Linked DNA regions of Homo sapiens: region 1 is linked to region 2. A link means that fine-mapping ties the variant in region 2 to the expression of a gene that starts in the linked region. Tissue or cell type: whole blood. Region 2 holds a variant in brackets; the other region holds the start of a gene. All regions are shown on one strand. Distances are from middle to middle.

The links. PIP is the estimated chance that this variant, and not a neighbour inherited with it, causes the effect.
Region 1: it holds the start of ADGRE3, and the variant in region 2 is fine-mapped to the expression of ADGRE3 in whole blood (INTERVAL, PIP 0.96).

What each region holds. Positions count from the first base shown.
Region 1 is chr19:14,670,743-14,678,863 of GRCh38, reverse strand. It overlaps ADGRE3 (adhesion G protein-coupled receptor E3), which reads left to right and starts at 4,020. Exons shown (of 16, transcript NM_032571.5): 1 at 4,020-4,118. The coding sequence starts at 4,094.
Region 2 is chr19:14,649,507-14,657,506 of GRCh38, reverse strand. It overlaps ADGRE3 (adhesion G protein-coupled receptor E3), which reads left to right. Exons shown (of 16, transcript NM_032571.5): 6 at 2,342-2,525; 7 at 6,303-6,422. Among named protein-coding and RNA genes, the nearest start is that of ADGRE3, 21 kb to the left of the region's middle. The variant G/A (reference allele first, on the strand shown) is at 4,571.

The sequences.
Region 1 (8,121 bases), 21 kb before region 2:
AGGATGTTGAGAGCCCAACAAACCTACTACGTACGTTCATGGCCTTGACAATCCCAATAGCCAGCTAATTCCACCATGCTCCAAACACCCAGGGAGGTCTCTTGATCATCTTGCTTTGCTCATACTTTTTTCTCCAACTGTCTTTACAGGTGACTTCACTTGCTGTCTCCACTTCTTCCCCTCGCGCTTTTTCCTCAATCCACATAATTCTGGCTTGAACCATTATAACAACAACCTCCACCACCTTCCCTACCATTATTGGCATCACCACCATCTTTACCTCCACTATCAACATAACCACCACCGCCACTATTTTCACTCCCATCTTCATCACCACTGCTATCACAGCCTTCATCACCATCACAACAGTCACCTTCACTACAACTGTCACCATCAATCACCATCATCACCACCATCTCTGAAAACATCACTGTGATGTTACCACCACCATTGCTACTACCACCGTCGTCACTTTCGTCACCTTCAGCCCCATCGCAACCATCATCATCACCACCATCATCACTTCCGTCATCACCACCACGACCTCTACCACCACCATCGCTACTGCCACTACCATGATGACCACCATCACCACTGCAACCATTCTATCACCATCATCATCACCACCACAACCGTTATTATCATCATCATCATCACCATGTTAGATATGAGTTCTAAATTTATTTTCAAAGAATTAATATGTCAGTATGTTCAATTCTTTGCCTTCTACTTTTAAACTTAACTTCCTCGTAAAGCAGCTTTTTCGATTACCTACTCCACCCTGACTCATTCTGATCACCTGCTCCACCCTAACTCATTCCGATTACCTGCTACCTGCTCTGCCCTGACTCCCGCCAAAGCACTCACCCCGTCATTCTCTTTAAATTAGCCAATCGGCATTAGTTTAGCCTGCGCGGTCTAATCCTAGCCAATAGGGGAACGACACAGCAGCAGGGGCCACCTGAGTCAGGGATAAGAACCCCTTCCCCTCCCATGTCCGAATGTGCGCTCGCCACTGTTCCATCTGTAAGGGCACACCCTTCTATATTGAAGTAACTTGCCTTGCTGAGAATTAAAAGGAAAATTTTATATTCAAGTGCTATTTCTTTCACGTCACCGAAACTTTATATATAACAACCACCACCACAACCGCTATCATCAGCATCAGCATCATCACCACCACCACCACCTTCACTACTGTAATTGTTCATGCTAAGAATACAAACAACCCCCTTGCAGCTCTCTCCTGTGGGTGTCTTTCAGTCTTAATTCAGTGTGATCTCTTTCCTTTACCTCCATAATACCATACTCCATTCATTTCCCACCCCCACCCCTCATCTCTCTGGCCATTCTCGTCCTGTCTCCTCTATTAGCTGCCTCTCCATTCCTTTATTTTTTTTAATTTTTTTCTATTGCCTTTGCACAAATTAACATTGCCTGAGTTTTTAAATGAATTACTCAGGGTTCTTTTTCCACTCTATAATCTCTCCCTAAATGATTTAATCCATGACCGTGTCTTCAGTTGCCACCAGGGCTACTTTCTTGCAGTGGTTTTTTTGTTTGTTTGCCTGTTTGTTTGTTCCTTTTTGTTCCTGTTGTATCTAGTGATACAAGAGCTAAAAAGATATTATTCAGGCAACTGGTGAGGGTAAGAGAGTCCTCAGTAAGGCTTCCCTGTTAACAAAAAGCAGCCCCAAAATCATTTCTTTTCGTCTTTACCTCCACTACCAATATAACCACCACCTTTGCTATTTTCACCCCATCATTATCACCACTGCTATCACAGCCTTCGTCACCATCACCACAACAATCACCTTCACTGCAGCTGTCACCTTCAATCACCATCATCACCACCATCTCTGAAAATATCACCATAATGTAACCATCACCATCGCTACTACCATCACCGTCACTTTCATCATCTTCACCATCATCGCAACCATCGTCATCATCACCATCATCCCTTCCTTCATCGTCACCACCACCACCTATAGCTCCACCATCACTCCTGCCACTACCATGATTACCACCATCACCACCACAACCGTTATTATCACCATCATCATCATCACCACCACGACAAAGAGCAGTCTGCAAAATCGAGCTACAAACATAAATAAGCAAGCTGGAAGTTTGCAAAGGTAAATGCAGCGGCTGTGCCAATAGGAAAAGGCTTCCTGGGGGCAGGCATGTTCAACATGGAGGTTCCCTCTTCCCTTTTTTTTTTTTTTTTTTTTTTTTGAGACAGAGTCTCGCTCTTTCGCCCAGGCCAGACTGCAGTGGCGCTATCTCGGGTCACTGCAAGCCCCGCCTTCCGGGTTCACGCCATTCTCCTGCCTCAGCCTCCCGAGTAGCTGGGACTACAGGCGCCCGCCACCGCGCCCGGCTAATTTTTTGTATTTTTAGTAGAGACGGGGTTTCACCATGTTCCCTTTTCTTTATCACCACGTGTGCAGTAAAAAAGCAGGCAACATAGTGCCAGCCAGGTAGAGACCCCATCTGCATAGTAAAAGATGAGGATGGGGCGGCCAGCTTCTTTGCGTGCTATGCAAACAGCACACCCAGTCCGACCAATCTCTCGGTTCCTGTGTAAATCAGACAGCTCCTCCTCAAGCTCGGCTATAAAACCCCATGTATTTCACCACGAGACCAGAAGACTCACTTGGGAGCCCCTCTCTCTCTGCAGGATAGAGCTTTTCTCTTTTTTCTCTTCTCTTGCCTGTTAAACTTCTGCTCTGAAACTCACTTTTTTTTTTTTTTTTTTAGATGAAGTCTCACTCTGTCACCCAGGCTGGAAGGAACTGGCGCAATCTTCGCTCACGGCAACCTCTGCCTCCCGGGTTCAAACAATTCTCCCGCTTCAGCCTTCCGAGTAGCTGGGATTACAGGCATGCGCCACCATGCCCAGCTAATTTTTGTATTTTTAGTACAGACAGGGTTTCACCATGTTGGCTTGGCTGGTCTTGAACTCCTGACCTCAGGTGATCCGCCCGTCTCAGCCTCCCAAAGTGCTGGGATTACAAGGGTGAGCCACAGTGCTCGGCCTTAAATTCACTTCTTGTGCATCCGCATCCTTGATTTACTTGGCATGAGAGGATGAACCCCAGACAACAACACTGCTTCAGTAGGAAGTCTGGTGTTTTAAGTCTAATGAAGAGCTTCAGAAGAGTTTTAAGCAGGGGAGCCGGGTGCAGTGGCTCACACCGGTAATCTCAACACTGGGAGACTGAGGCAGAAGGATTGCTTGAGCCCAGAAATTCAAGACAAGCCTGGGCTACAAAGCGAGGCCCTGTCTCTCTTCAAAAAAAAAAATAAAAACTAAAAAAAATTAGCCAGGCGTGGTGGCATGCACCTGTAGTCCTAACGATTCAGAGGACTGAGGTGGGAGGATCGCTGGAGCCCAGGAGTTTGAGGTTGCAGTGAGCTATGATTGTGCCACGGCACTCCAGCCTGGGTAACAGAGCAAGACCCACATAAATAAATAAATAAATATTTGCTGGAGGAAGGGTAGATTTACAGACTTTTTCTCCCAAGTCCTGTGACTGGTTAGGGTTGGTCCAAATAACCAAATAATGTATTACCTTCTATGAGACTTTGGGACTCTTAACTTCTTATGGCTCAGCAATCATAACCAGTAAGTATCATCTACTGGGGGAAGAGAAAGATATGTTAAAATGACTCCTCTGGAAACTTCAGATACCAACACAGACACCCTAAAATCTGGTTTACTCACCTCAAAGCCACAGGCTTATTTAAGATTTATTTTGGCCCCAAAGGCACTTCCTAATCCTCAGACAATGTGATGTAACTTTCAGGGCATTTCCTCGTTAGGGTTTACCAACTCAATCATCCCAAAGGTGATCAACAATAGCTAGGCAGAAAAGGTACAGCAAATAAACGAAAAGCAGAACCATGAGTCTGATGGCGAAAGAGGGGAAGCAGTTTGCTTTTCTGATAGCAATTTCATGAGTCAGCTGACCTAAGATACATACTTCAATTCTCATGGGATTTCTTGAGCTAGGAAAGGTGGTTGGCTTACGGCACAGTAGAGAGCTTCCAGGGCTGGCTGGCGTGGGATACCCGTACCACAGAAATGCAGGGACCATTGCTTCTTCCAGGTATGTGTGACTGTAACAATGACTGAGGCTTAACCTATCCCCCAGTCAGGGACCACTTGGTTCAACAATTGGTTATTTTCTCCTCCTCTTTCTTCTGCTCTGAACACTCTCACCTTTTCCCTTTGGAGTGTGGTTTCCTTCCTGACTACCCTATTCAAAGTATGCTCTCGAATATCCCTAAAATGTTCCTATCCAATCTAGTAGCTTGGTTTTTTGTTTGTTTTGTTTGTTTGTTTTGTTTTGTTTTTTGAGACAGAATCTCACTCTGTCACCCAGGTTGGAGTGCAGTGGCGCAATCTTGACTCACTGAAACCTCTGCCTCCCGGGTTCAAGTGATTCTCCTGCCTCAGCCTCCTGAGTAGCTGGGATTACAGGCACACATCACCACACCTGGCTAATTTTTGTATTTTTAGTAGAGATGGGGTTTCACCATGTTGCCCTGGCTGGTCTCGAACTCCTGACCTCAGGTGATCCACCCGCCTCAGCCTGCCAAAGTGCTAGGATTACAGGCATGAGCCACCGCACCCGGTCTCTAATACGTTGTTCATCTTCCTCTTGGCAAGTTTTGTTTTCTAATTGATGTCTTCTCCTTCTTGATAACTTCTGCAAACTAGCCCTGCCCTGACTTTTTTCCTTTTTCTCTTGCTATTCTTTCTTCTCCCTCCTTTATCATTTTCCTGTGACAAGAAAATAAATGATAATTTTATTATTAATTTTAGAGGTCATTATATTAAGTGAAATAACTCAAACACCAAAAGACAAATGCCTCATGTTCTTGTTTATCAGTGGGAGCTAAATAATGTGGACACATGGACATAGAGAGTAGAATGATAGACGATGAAGACTGGGAAGGCTGAGGGAGTAGAAGGACAGTGGAAAATAAGAAGTTACCTAATGGTTACAATGTACATCATTTGGATGGTGGATACTCTAAAAGCCCTGACTTCACCACTATGAAATCTATGCGTGTAACAAAATTACACTTGTATCCCATAAATTTATACAAAGAAAATAATGATAACCAACATTTTTGAAAACTCACTATGCACCTTACATGTATTAATCTGTTGCATCATCAGTATGCTCATGGGGTATCCTCATCTTACAGATAAGAAAACTGGGGCACAGGTTATGTTATTTGTCCAACATCACACAGCTAGTAAATAAGAGAGCTGGGATTTGAATCCAAACCATCTGTCTCCAGATCTTTGCTATAATGCTCCTCCCACAGGATCCTTACTGGGATCTTCTGTTTTTCTACTCCCTCTCCCTATGGGAATCTCCTAATTCCATGGCTTCAACCACCATCTCTGTACGGATGAAATCCCATCCATCTTTCCAGCTCCAGATGAATTAACAATATTGATAGTCCCAATATCAATCAAAGCTTACATTTATTAAGCAGCTACTTTAGCCTGGCATTAGGCTTAAATTGCTTTACATTGTCACATAGCATCTGCACATTACAGATAAGAAATTGCATCATAGAGAGGTTCTGTGAATTTCTCAAAGCCTCACAGCTATTCTGCTGCAGAGGCAGCTGATAGGCTGTAAATTCTATCAAAATAATACAAGCTACACTTAAATCCTAATGCCATGTCTCCCTCACCTTTGCAACCCCTAGCATAGCATCTTATATATAAGAGGTGTTTCAGTATATGTGGAATCAAATGTGAAAGAAGCCTGCCTTTTTGCAACTGGAGACAGAGTCCTCCACACTTCTGAGGTGGATTATTAGTGAATTTTGGTTATCCAGGAACTTTTAGCCCATATCACTGGATGGTACAGGCAAGGGTGATGATATGAGCATTGGGTCAAGAATTAGGATTCCAGGGTTGGGCATGGAGGCTCATACCTATAATCCCAAAGCTTTGGAAGGCAAGGCGGGAAGATTGCTTGAGCCAGGAGTTCAAGACCAGACTGAGCAACATAGCAAGACTCTGTCTCCAAGAAACATTAAAAAAAAAAATTAGCCAGTCATGGTGGCACACACCTGCAGTCCCAGCTACCCTGGAGGCTGAGGTGGGAGGATCGCTTGAGCTCAGGAGTTCAAGGTTACAATGAGCTGTGATTGCATCACTGCACTCCAGCCTGAGCAACAGAGCTCAAATGATAATATAGGCAGCAAGCTAGAGCAATTAGGCAAAAAGAGAGAAAGAAAAAGCATCCAAATGGGAAAGGAGGAAGTCAGATGGTGACAGAGGCAGCCAGTATCAGTGGAGGACTTCCTGCCTGACATTGTGCTCTACACAGTCCCTCATTTAGGTCATCTCCAAAACCCCACAAAGTAGGTCATACTGCCACCCTATTTCACATAAGGAAGCTTAGAGAAGTTAAACAACTTACCCAAATTTGCCCAACTAGTGTGCCAGCCACTTAACCCCAGGGGACCTGTTTCCTCATCTACAAAATAAGTCAGTGGATGATTTCTAAAGTTTCTTAGAACTCTGGGATTCTGACACACCGATGACTCTTCAGAAACCCTAACTTAAGACCTTTGCCCAAATTAGTGAGTACAGGCTTGCTGGTTAGACTAAAGACTAGTCTTAAGGAAACATGATGGTCCCCCAGACTGCCTGAGTTTTAGGAACAGGGTAACACTATTCAGCCATATGGTTTATCAGTTGGCCCTGTGAGCTAGTCATCATTTGGGCAGGCGTAAGGTTTGTGTGGCTGCTACACATTCATGTATATACAAAAGAAGAAAGTGCCTCACGCATATAATGCCAACACTTTGGGAGGCCACAGAAGGAGGATCACTTGAGGCCAACAGTTCAAGACCAGCTCGGTCAACACAGCAAGACCCAATCTCTACCAAAAAAATTTTTTTTAATTGGCCACAAGTGGTATCTCATGCATGTAGCCCAGGAGTTCAAGGCTACAGTGAGGTATGATTGCACCACTGCACTCCAACCGGGGCAACAGAAAAAGAACCTGCCTCAAAAAAATAAAAATAAAAATAAAAAATGTAGAAGGAAGGGGACTTTAAAGGAAACATCAGCCTGACATTAAGCCCAGCTGAGAATATTCAAAATGTTCTGTGAATGCAATTGCATAAGTAACTGATCACAAACCAGACCTGGCATCTTCTTGGGGGAAGGGTGAGAATTACAGGAAGAAAAATAACAGTCCCCCCAGAGACATCCACATCCTAATCCCTGGAACCTGTTAATATGTTACCTTACATGGTAAAAGAAACTTTGCAGATGTTGATTAAGATAAGAATCTTAATATGGGGGTAGTACCCTGAATTTTCCAGGGGGCCTAATATAATAATCACAAAGGTCCTCTTAAGAGGGAGGTGGAAGATCAGGAAGACGAGAAGATGCTGTGCTGCTGGATTTAAAGAAGGAGGAAGGGTCCGTGAGCCAAGAAATGCAGGCAGCTTCTAGAAGCTGGAAAAGGCAAGGAGACAGATTCTCCCCTAGAGCTTCCAAAAGAAACCAGCCCTACTAACATTCTTGATTTTAGCCTATAGAGGCTGATTTAAGACTTCTGACTTCCAGACCTGTAAGAGAATAATAAATCAGTGTTGTTTTAAGCCACTACAGTCATGGTAATTTGTGATAGCAGCAATTGGAAACTCAAGAGAGAGATCCAGAAGGATTTAGATTGCTGCCATTACCTCTCCTGAAGAGTCACACAGTTAGCCCCCAGGGCCTCTTCTCCAAAATCCTACAATTGGTCTGCACTGCCCTAAATGACCAAGTCACATACCACTCTCTACGGGACTTTGAGGCTCCAGTCAGATCTGGTGAGTGGCATCTGCCGGGGGAAAAAAGGACAAGTCACTGTCACAATAAACATGCCAACCTACAGTGTCTACAATCTGAACAGCACTTCCATGCAGGTAGTGCCCTGTGGGATTTCTGAAGGAGAGGCTATGTGGTGTAATGGGTTATCAGCTAGAACCCAGAACCCGTGTTTAACCTCAGCTCTGCCACTGACTAGCCCCAGTGAATGGAGCAAGTTACTTACCTTCTCTGTGCCTCCATTTCTTAAT
Region 2 (8,000 bases):
ATGACAGTGTGTGAGTGTGTGTGTATGAGCGTGTGTGTGTTGCCATCTAAAGACAGGAATCTATCCCAGACCAAGAAAGACAGGCCAAGAGAGAGTATATTAAGGCCTGCTGCACTGCTGCAAAAGACATCCAAGTATCCAATGGTATCCATTATTGTCTCCGGCCAACTGACGGCATTTATATAAATATGTGATTACATCATGTAATCAATCCCTAGACTGTGAGCTTTTTGAGGAAGGGAATAAGACCAACCCCAAATTAGGAGTTCAAGGAATGATCACTGAAGTAATGAACAAATAAAGAATCAAGTAATCAGGCCGGGCATGGCGGCTAATGCCTGTAATCCCAGCACTTTGGGAGGTGGGTGGATCACCCGAGGTCAGAAGTTCAAGACCAGCCTGGCCAACATGATGAAACCCCCATGTCTACAAAAAACACAAAAATTAGCCGGGCATGGGGGCGCATGCCTGTAATCCCAGCTACTCAGGAGGCTGAAGCAGGAGAATCACTTGAACCCAGGAGGCAGAGGTTGCAGTGAGCTGAGATCACGTCACTGCACTCCAGCCTGGGCAACAGAGTAAGACTCCATCTCAAAAATAAATAAATAAATACACAATGATATAGGAGTTAAGAAGAAATTACTTAGGCAGATGGTGAGGGTACGGAAGTCCTCAGTGAGGTTTTCCTTTTAATGAAGAGCAGCCCCAAATTTTCTTTTCTAACAAAGAGCAGCCTGTAAAATCAAGCTGCGGACATAGACAAGCAAGCTGGAAGCTTATGGGTCAATGCCAGCAGCTGTGCCAATAGGAAAAGGCTGCCTGGGACTAGACATGATCAAAATGGCAGCTCCATCTTCCCTTCTCTTTGCCAGTCACGTGTACAGTAAGGAGCAGACAAGATGGTACTGGCCAAGTGGGTAGGGCAACCAGCCTTCCCCGAGCAGTAAGTAAATGTCGCACCTGGCCCAACCAATCTGTGGGCCCTACATAATTCAGACACCGCCTCCTCAGCCTGACTATAAAATCTAGTGCCTGAATATAAAATCTAGTCGGTGGGCAGGATTTTGCTTTCTTTCGGGCATCCCTCTCTCTCGCAAGGGAGAGAGCTGTTCTACTTTCTTTTTTTTTTTTCTTTTCTTTTTTTTTTTTTTTTGAGATGGAGTCTCACTCTGTCACCCAGGCTGGAGTGCAGTGATGTGATCTCGGCTCACTACAACATCTGCCTCCTCTGCCTTCCAGGTTCAAGCGATTCTCCTGCCTCAGCATCCCAACTAGCTGGGATTACAGGCACGCGCCACCATGCCCGGCTAATTTTGTATTTTCAGTAGAGATGGGGTTTCACCATGTTGGTCAGACTGGTCTTGAACTCCTGACCTCAGATGATCCACCCCCCTCGGCCTTCCAAAGTTCTGGGATTACAGGCATGAGCCACCGCACCCTGCCCTCTTTTCTTTTTCTTTTGCCTATTAAACCTCCACTCCTAAACTCACTCCTCGTGTGTGTCCATGTCCTTCATCTTGGCGCAAGATGACAAACTCTGGGTATTTACCCCAGACAGTGACGCTGCTTCAATAGTGGCAACCACTCCCTTGTTGCGACAGTGACAACCGAAAATGTCTCCAGCCATCGCCACATGTGCCCTGTGGAGGGAGTAGCAGAATCACCCCCCCGTTGAGAACCACTGGTCTATTTCTAACAAACTTATCACTACCTTGTTGGCAAAAAACGTTAATAATAACTAACCCAATCAGGCACGGTGGCTCACTCCTATAATCCCATCACTTTGGAAGGCCAAGGCAGGAGAATCGTTTGAGCCCAGGAGTTCCAGACCAGCCTGGGCAACATAGCAAGACCCTGTCTATACAAAAAAAAAAATTAAAAAAATTAAGCAAGCATGGCGGTGTGCACCTGTAATCCCAGCTACTCAGGAGACTGAAGCATGAGAATCACTTGAACCCAGGAGCTGGAGGTTGCAGTGAGCCAAGATCCCACCACTGCACTCTAGCCTGGGCGACAGAGCAATACTCTGTCTCAAAAATAATAATAGTGACTCACCCTTACATAGCTTTTACCAGATACAGACACTGTCCTAAAAGAAGAGCATCTGTTAACTCATTTAATCCTCCAGAAAAACCCTTTGAGTTCCTTTTCCTGTCGTGGGGCACAGAGTGATTGAGTGACTTGCCCAAGGTCACAAAGCTGGGACATGATGAAGTGCCAGGATTTGAACGTGGTTCCTCCAGCTCCAGAGCCTGCTTTCTCATGCTTTCTACTGTTCTTTTGGATATGGGACTTACCAGATTACATTTTTAAAAAATGAAAATTCTTTATGTCTTCAAAGCTGCAAAAGATTGTGGACAAATTTGAGTCACTTCTCACCAATCAGACTTTATGGAGAACAGAAGGGAGACAAGAAATCTCATCCACAGCTACCACTATTCTCCGGGATGTGGAATCGAAAGTTCTAGAAACTGCCTTGAAAGATCCAGAACAAAAAGTCCTGAAAATCCAAAACGATAGTGTAGGTAAGACAATAATGAGGACTGATACACCCTGGGGACTGGTTAGCAGCTGGGATCTGGGTTAGGCAATTAGAAAAAAAAAATTGAATACACCACATGAGTCCCTTTATGTAAATTACAAAAATTTATATAAATTCTAGAAAACGCAAACTTATCTAGAGTGACAGGGAGGGGCAGGAGGGAGGGGTGGCAGAGGCATGAGAAAATCTGGGGAAACTATTAGGGGTGATGGAAATCTTCCTGCCTTGATTGTGGTGTTGATTTCAGAGGTGTGTGCACCCAACAAAACTCACCAGATTGTACACTTTAATATGTGCAGTTGGTTAGACATCAATTATACCTCAATAAAGTTGTTTATTCAGAAGATTGCCAATAGTTTCCAATCCCAGGTCTGGAATTTTCACTTAAATGTAGTTTGAGGACCAGGCATGATGGCTCACGACTGTATTCCCAGCACTTTGGGAGGCTGAGGCGGGAGGGTTAATTCAGCCCAGGAGCTCAAGACTGGCCTGGGCAACATAGCAAGACCCCCATCTCTTTAAAAAAAATTTAAAATTTGCCAGGTGCAGTGGCTTGTACCTGTGGTCTCAGCTACTTGGGAGGCTGAGGGAGAGGATGGCTTGAGTCCAGGAGTTTGAGGGTGCAGTGAACTATGATCATGCCATTGCCACTCCAACCTGGATGACAGAACAAGAACCTGTCTCATTAAAAAAAAAAAAAAAACAGGTTTTGGGCTGGGCATGGTGGCTTACACCTATAATCCCAGCACTTTGGGAGGCCAAGGTGGGTGGATCACTTGAGGCCAGTAGTTTGAGATCAGCCTGGGCAACATGGTGAAACTTAATCTTTACTAAAAATACAGAAATTAGCGGGGCGTGGTAGCTCATGACTGTAATCCCAGCTACTCCAGAGGCTGAGGTGGGAGAATCACTTGAACTGGGGAGGCAGAGGTTGCAGTGAGCCGAGATCACATCACTGCACTCCAGCCTGGGTGACAGAGCAAGACTCCATCTTAAATTAAAAAAAAAAAAAAAAAAAACACACACACAGCAGGCTTTGAAAAAGTCAGTGCCTATTCTTCTTGGAAAACTGGAATCTGGATACTTTGGTTCAAAATTAAACCATTTTCCAGATTGCAAGTAAATCTCATCTCTCCTGATTTTGCCACGTCCTAACTGTTTGATCTGAGACCAGTGCCCTCACCTCATTGGGCTTCATTCTCCTGTCAATAAAATGAGGATAATATTAGCTGGACATGGTGGTGTGCAAATGAGGTCCCAGCTACTTAGGAGGCTGAGGTGGGAGGATCGCTTGAGCCCAGGAGTTCGAGGCTGCAGTGAGCTGAGATTGCACCACTGCACTCCAGCCTGGACAACAGAGTGAGAGCCTGTCTCAAAAAAAAATTTTAATAGAGATAATGAAAGTGCATGTAATGCACCTAGGACTAGGATCCCTCAGAAGCTAAACGACTCAAACTTTTAAGAAAGAAGAAAAACTACGGTAGTAATTGCTATAATTATGATTATTCTATCTTTCCACTCTTTAATATTATGAAATATTGTCAAAATAGTGTCATTCTTTTTTACAGGAAACACATAGTTTAATGTAGAAAATATTAAATAATATAAAAACAAGTCAAATTGAGGTTTGATAAAAATGACAAAGAGTAACAAGCGATAATATAATGGATGATGAAATTAACATTGTGGGCAGGATGAGGTGGCTCATCCTGTAATCCTAGCACTTTTGGAGGCTAAGGCAGGCGGATCACTTGAGGTCAGGAGTTCGAGATCAGCCTGGCCAACATGGTGAAACCCTGTTTCTACTAAAAAAAATTAGCCAGGCGTGGTGGTGCATGCCTGTAATCCCAGCTACTTGTGAGGCTGAGGAAGGAGAATCGCTTGAACCCGGGGGACAGAGGTTGCAGTTAGCTGAGAGCAAGCCACTGCACTCCAGCCTGGGCAAAAGAGCAAGACTCCATCTCAAAAATAATAATAATAACAATAAATTCACTTACACTGAGCTCAAGAATTTCTATTCATTAAAAC[G/A]TACTAAATGAATGAAACAGTAGGCCAAAAACATTAATACATAATTAGAGTAAATACTTGTAAACTTTTCAAAAACTGAGAGTCAATATTAGACAAACCAGTAGTAGTTTCTAGAATGTCATTAATGTCATTCTTTTTTTTTTTTTCTTTTTTTTTTTTTGAGATGGAGTCTCATTCTATTGCCCAGGCTGGAATGCAGTGGCATGATCTAGGTCACTGCAACCTCTGCCTCCTGGGTTCAAGCAATTCTCCTGCCTCAGCCTTCCTAGTAGCTGGGATTAAAGGTGCCTGCCACCATGACCAGCTAATTTTTGTGTATTAGTAGAATGGGATTTCACCATGTTGGCCAGGCTGGTCTTGAACTCCTGACCTCAAGCAATCAACTGGCCTCAGCCTGCAAAAGTGCTGGGAATTCAGGCATGAGCCACTGCACCCAGCCATAAAATAGTGTCATTCTTGATGTGCTGTTTTGTTGCTTGCTTCTTTTTTTTTTTAACCTTTTAATATGCACAAAAGGAAATAGGAGAATAAAATCCCTGATGCACCCATCACCCAATTCAACGATTTCCATCTCACAGCCAGTCTTGGGTTGTCTGTTTTTAAGATACATATTTTCATGAGCTTAACATTTTTTAGCTTTATTAAGGTGTAATTGATAAAGAAAATTGTATATATTTAAGGTGTACAATAGGATGACTTGATATACATATATACTGTGGAATGATCACCACAATCAAATTAGCTAACACATCCATCACTCACATGGTTACCTTTTTTCTCATGAGTTTTTCTTGATTGCAATTCATTTGTGACTTTATTTTTATTTGAAGCCCTGGTTCCCCACCACAGAGATATATCATCACTTATTTATTTATTTACTTACTTACTTATTTTTGAGACAGAGTCTCACTCCATCATCCAGGCTGGAGTACAGTGGCGTGATCTCAGCTCACTGCAACCTCTGCCTCCCCGGTTCAAACTATTCTCGTGCCTCAGCCTCCCAAGTAGCTGAGATTACAGGTGCACACCACCATGCCCAGATAATTTTTGTATTTTTAGTAGGGATGGGGTTTCACCATGTTGGCCAGGCTGGTCTTGAACTCCTGGCCTCAAGCAATCCACCTGCCATGGCCTCCCAAAGTGCTGGGATTACAAGCATGAGCCACTGTGCCCAGCCCATATCATCACTTATTTAATCAATCACCTCTTGTTGAACATCTAGATAATCCCCCATTTTCCACCATTATCATCTAAGCTGCTATGAACTTTCTTGTAGCTAAATCTGCCCTCCATCCACAATCGTTTTCTGAGAATAAACTCCTAGAAATAGAACTGTATCTTCAAAGGTGTATGCTAAGAGCTGTTAGTTAAGAACTTGGTTTCAGGAATTAGAGTCTTACCTAACTTCTGACTTCAGTTTCCTCATCTATAGAGTTGTCCCTGATGAAGTTATAGGTTTATAAGGTGACATGTGTAAGACTCTTAGCTCAGTGCCCGACACATCCTAGACATTCAGTATATGTGAGCCATTTATGTTGCTATGAACATTTTTTTTTTAGAGGCAGCATCTCACTGTGTTGCCTGGGCTCAAATTCCTGGGCCCAAGCAATCCTTCTGCCTCAGCCTCTTGAGTAGTTGGGACTACAGGCATGCACCACCATGTCCTGTTCCTATGCATATTTTTAAAGTTTCTTACAATATCACTAAGCCTGCCCATTGCTTTTCTTACCAGCTATTGAAACTCAAGCGATTACAGACAATTGCTCTGAAGAAAGAAAGACATTCAACTTGAACGTCCAAATGAACTCAATGGACATCCGTTGCAGTGACATCATCCAGGGAGACACACAAGGTATGCCTGATGGCTGCATTCAGAATCCTTCACACAGAGCCATGTCATTGTGTGAGTCATGGGGAAACAAGCCCACTGGGCTCTCCCCTCATGGGCTTTTTACCCTCAAACTACGATATTGGAGATTTTCCCTTTAAAAAAAAAAAAAAGACATTTTCCCAAAATGGAGGTTTTCTGTTATTCAGTATGGGAGGGACTTTGCAATTTGGGATGGTGGGGGAGTGCTGTTCTGCCTGTGTCCCGGTTTGGGTTCACCCAGAAGCAAACCCTGAAAGAAGTGTGAGAAGTTTCTTTGGGAGGTGATCCCCAGGAACAACAGTGGGTGTATTCATCAGTGTTCTCCAGAGAATCACAACTAAAGAGCTGAAGAGTGTAGGGTGTGGGGGGGTGTGGGAAGAGGGGAGAGAGAGAGAGAGAGAGAGAGAGAGAGAGAGAGAGAGAGAGAGAGAGAGAGATGGAGACAGAGAGCAAGAGATGAGAGAGATGGAGAGAAACAGATGTGGAGAGGCAGATGGGTAAAGAGAGATGGAGAGAAAGATGGGGAGAGAGGTGGAAAGAGAGACATGGGGAGAGACAGATGGGAAGAGAGAGATGGGGAGAGAAAGATGGAATTAGATGGGGAGAGAGATGTGGAAAGAGAGAGATGGGGAGAGCGATGGAAAGAGAGAGATGGGGACAGCGATGGAAAGAGAGAGAAGGGGAGAGAGATGGAAAGAGAGAAGGGAAGAGAGATGGAAAAAGATAGGGAAAGAGATGGAAAGAGAAAGATGAGAAAAGAGAGATGGGGAGAGTGGTGGAAAGACAGAGATGGGGAGAGAAATGGAAAGAGAGAGAAGGGAAGAGAGATGGAAAGAGAGAGATGGGGACAGAGATGGAGAGGAGAGAGATGCAAAGAGAGAGATGGGGGAGAGAGATAGGAAGAGAGGTGGAAAGAGAGAGATGAGTAGAGAGAGATGGAAAGAGAGAGATGAGGAGAGGGATGGAAAGAGAGAGATGGGGAGAGAGAGATCAAAAGCAAGAGATGGGGAGAGAGATGGGAAGAGAGGGATGGGGAGAGAGATGGAAAGAGAGAGATGGGGAGGGAGAGATGGAGAGAGAGATGGAAAGACAGAGATTGAAAGAGAGAGATGGGGAGAAAGAGATGGAGAGAGATGGAAAGAGAGAGATGGGGAGGGAGAGATGGAGAGAGAGATGGAAAGACAGAGATCGAAAGAGAGAGATGGGGAGAAAGAGATGGAGAGAGATGGAAAGAGAGAGATGGGGAGGGAGAGATGGAGAGAGAGATGGAAAGACAGAGATTGAAAGAGAGAGATGGGGAGAAAGAGATGGAGAGAGATGGAAAGAGAGAGATGGGGAGGGAGAGATGGAGAGAGAGATGGAAAGACAGAGATCGAAAGAGAGAGATGGGGAGAAAGAGATGGAGAGAGATGGAAAGAGAGAGATGGGGAGGGAGAGATGGAGAGAGAGATGGAAAGACAGAGATCGAAAGAGAGAGATGAGGAGAAAGAGATGGAGAGAGATGGAAAGAGAGAGATGGGGAGAAAGAGATGAAAAGAGGGATGGAGAGAGAGAGATGGA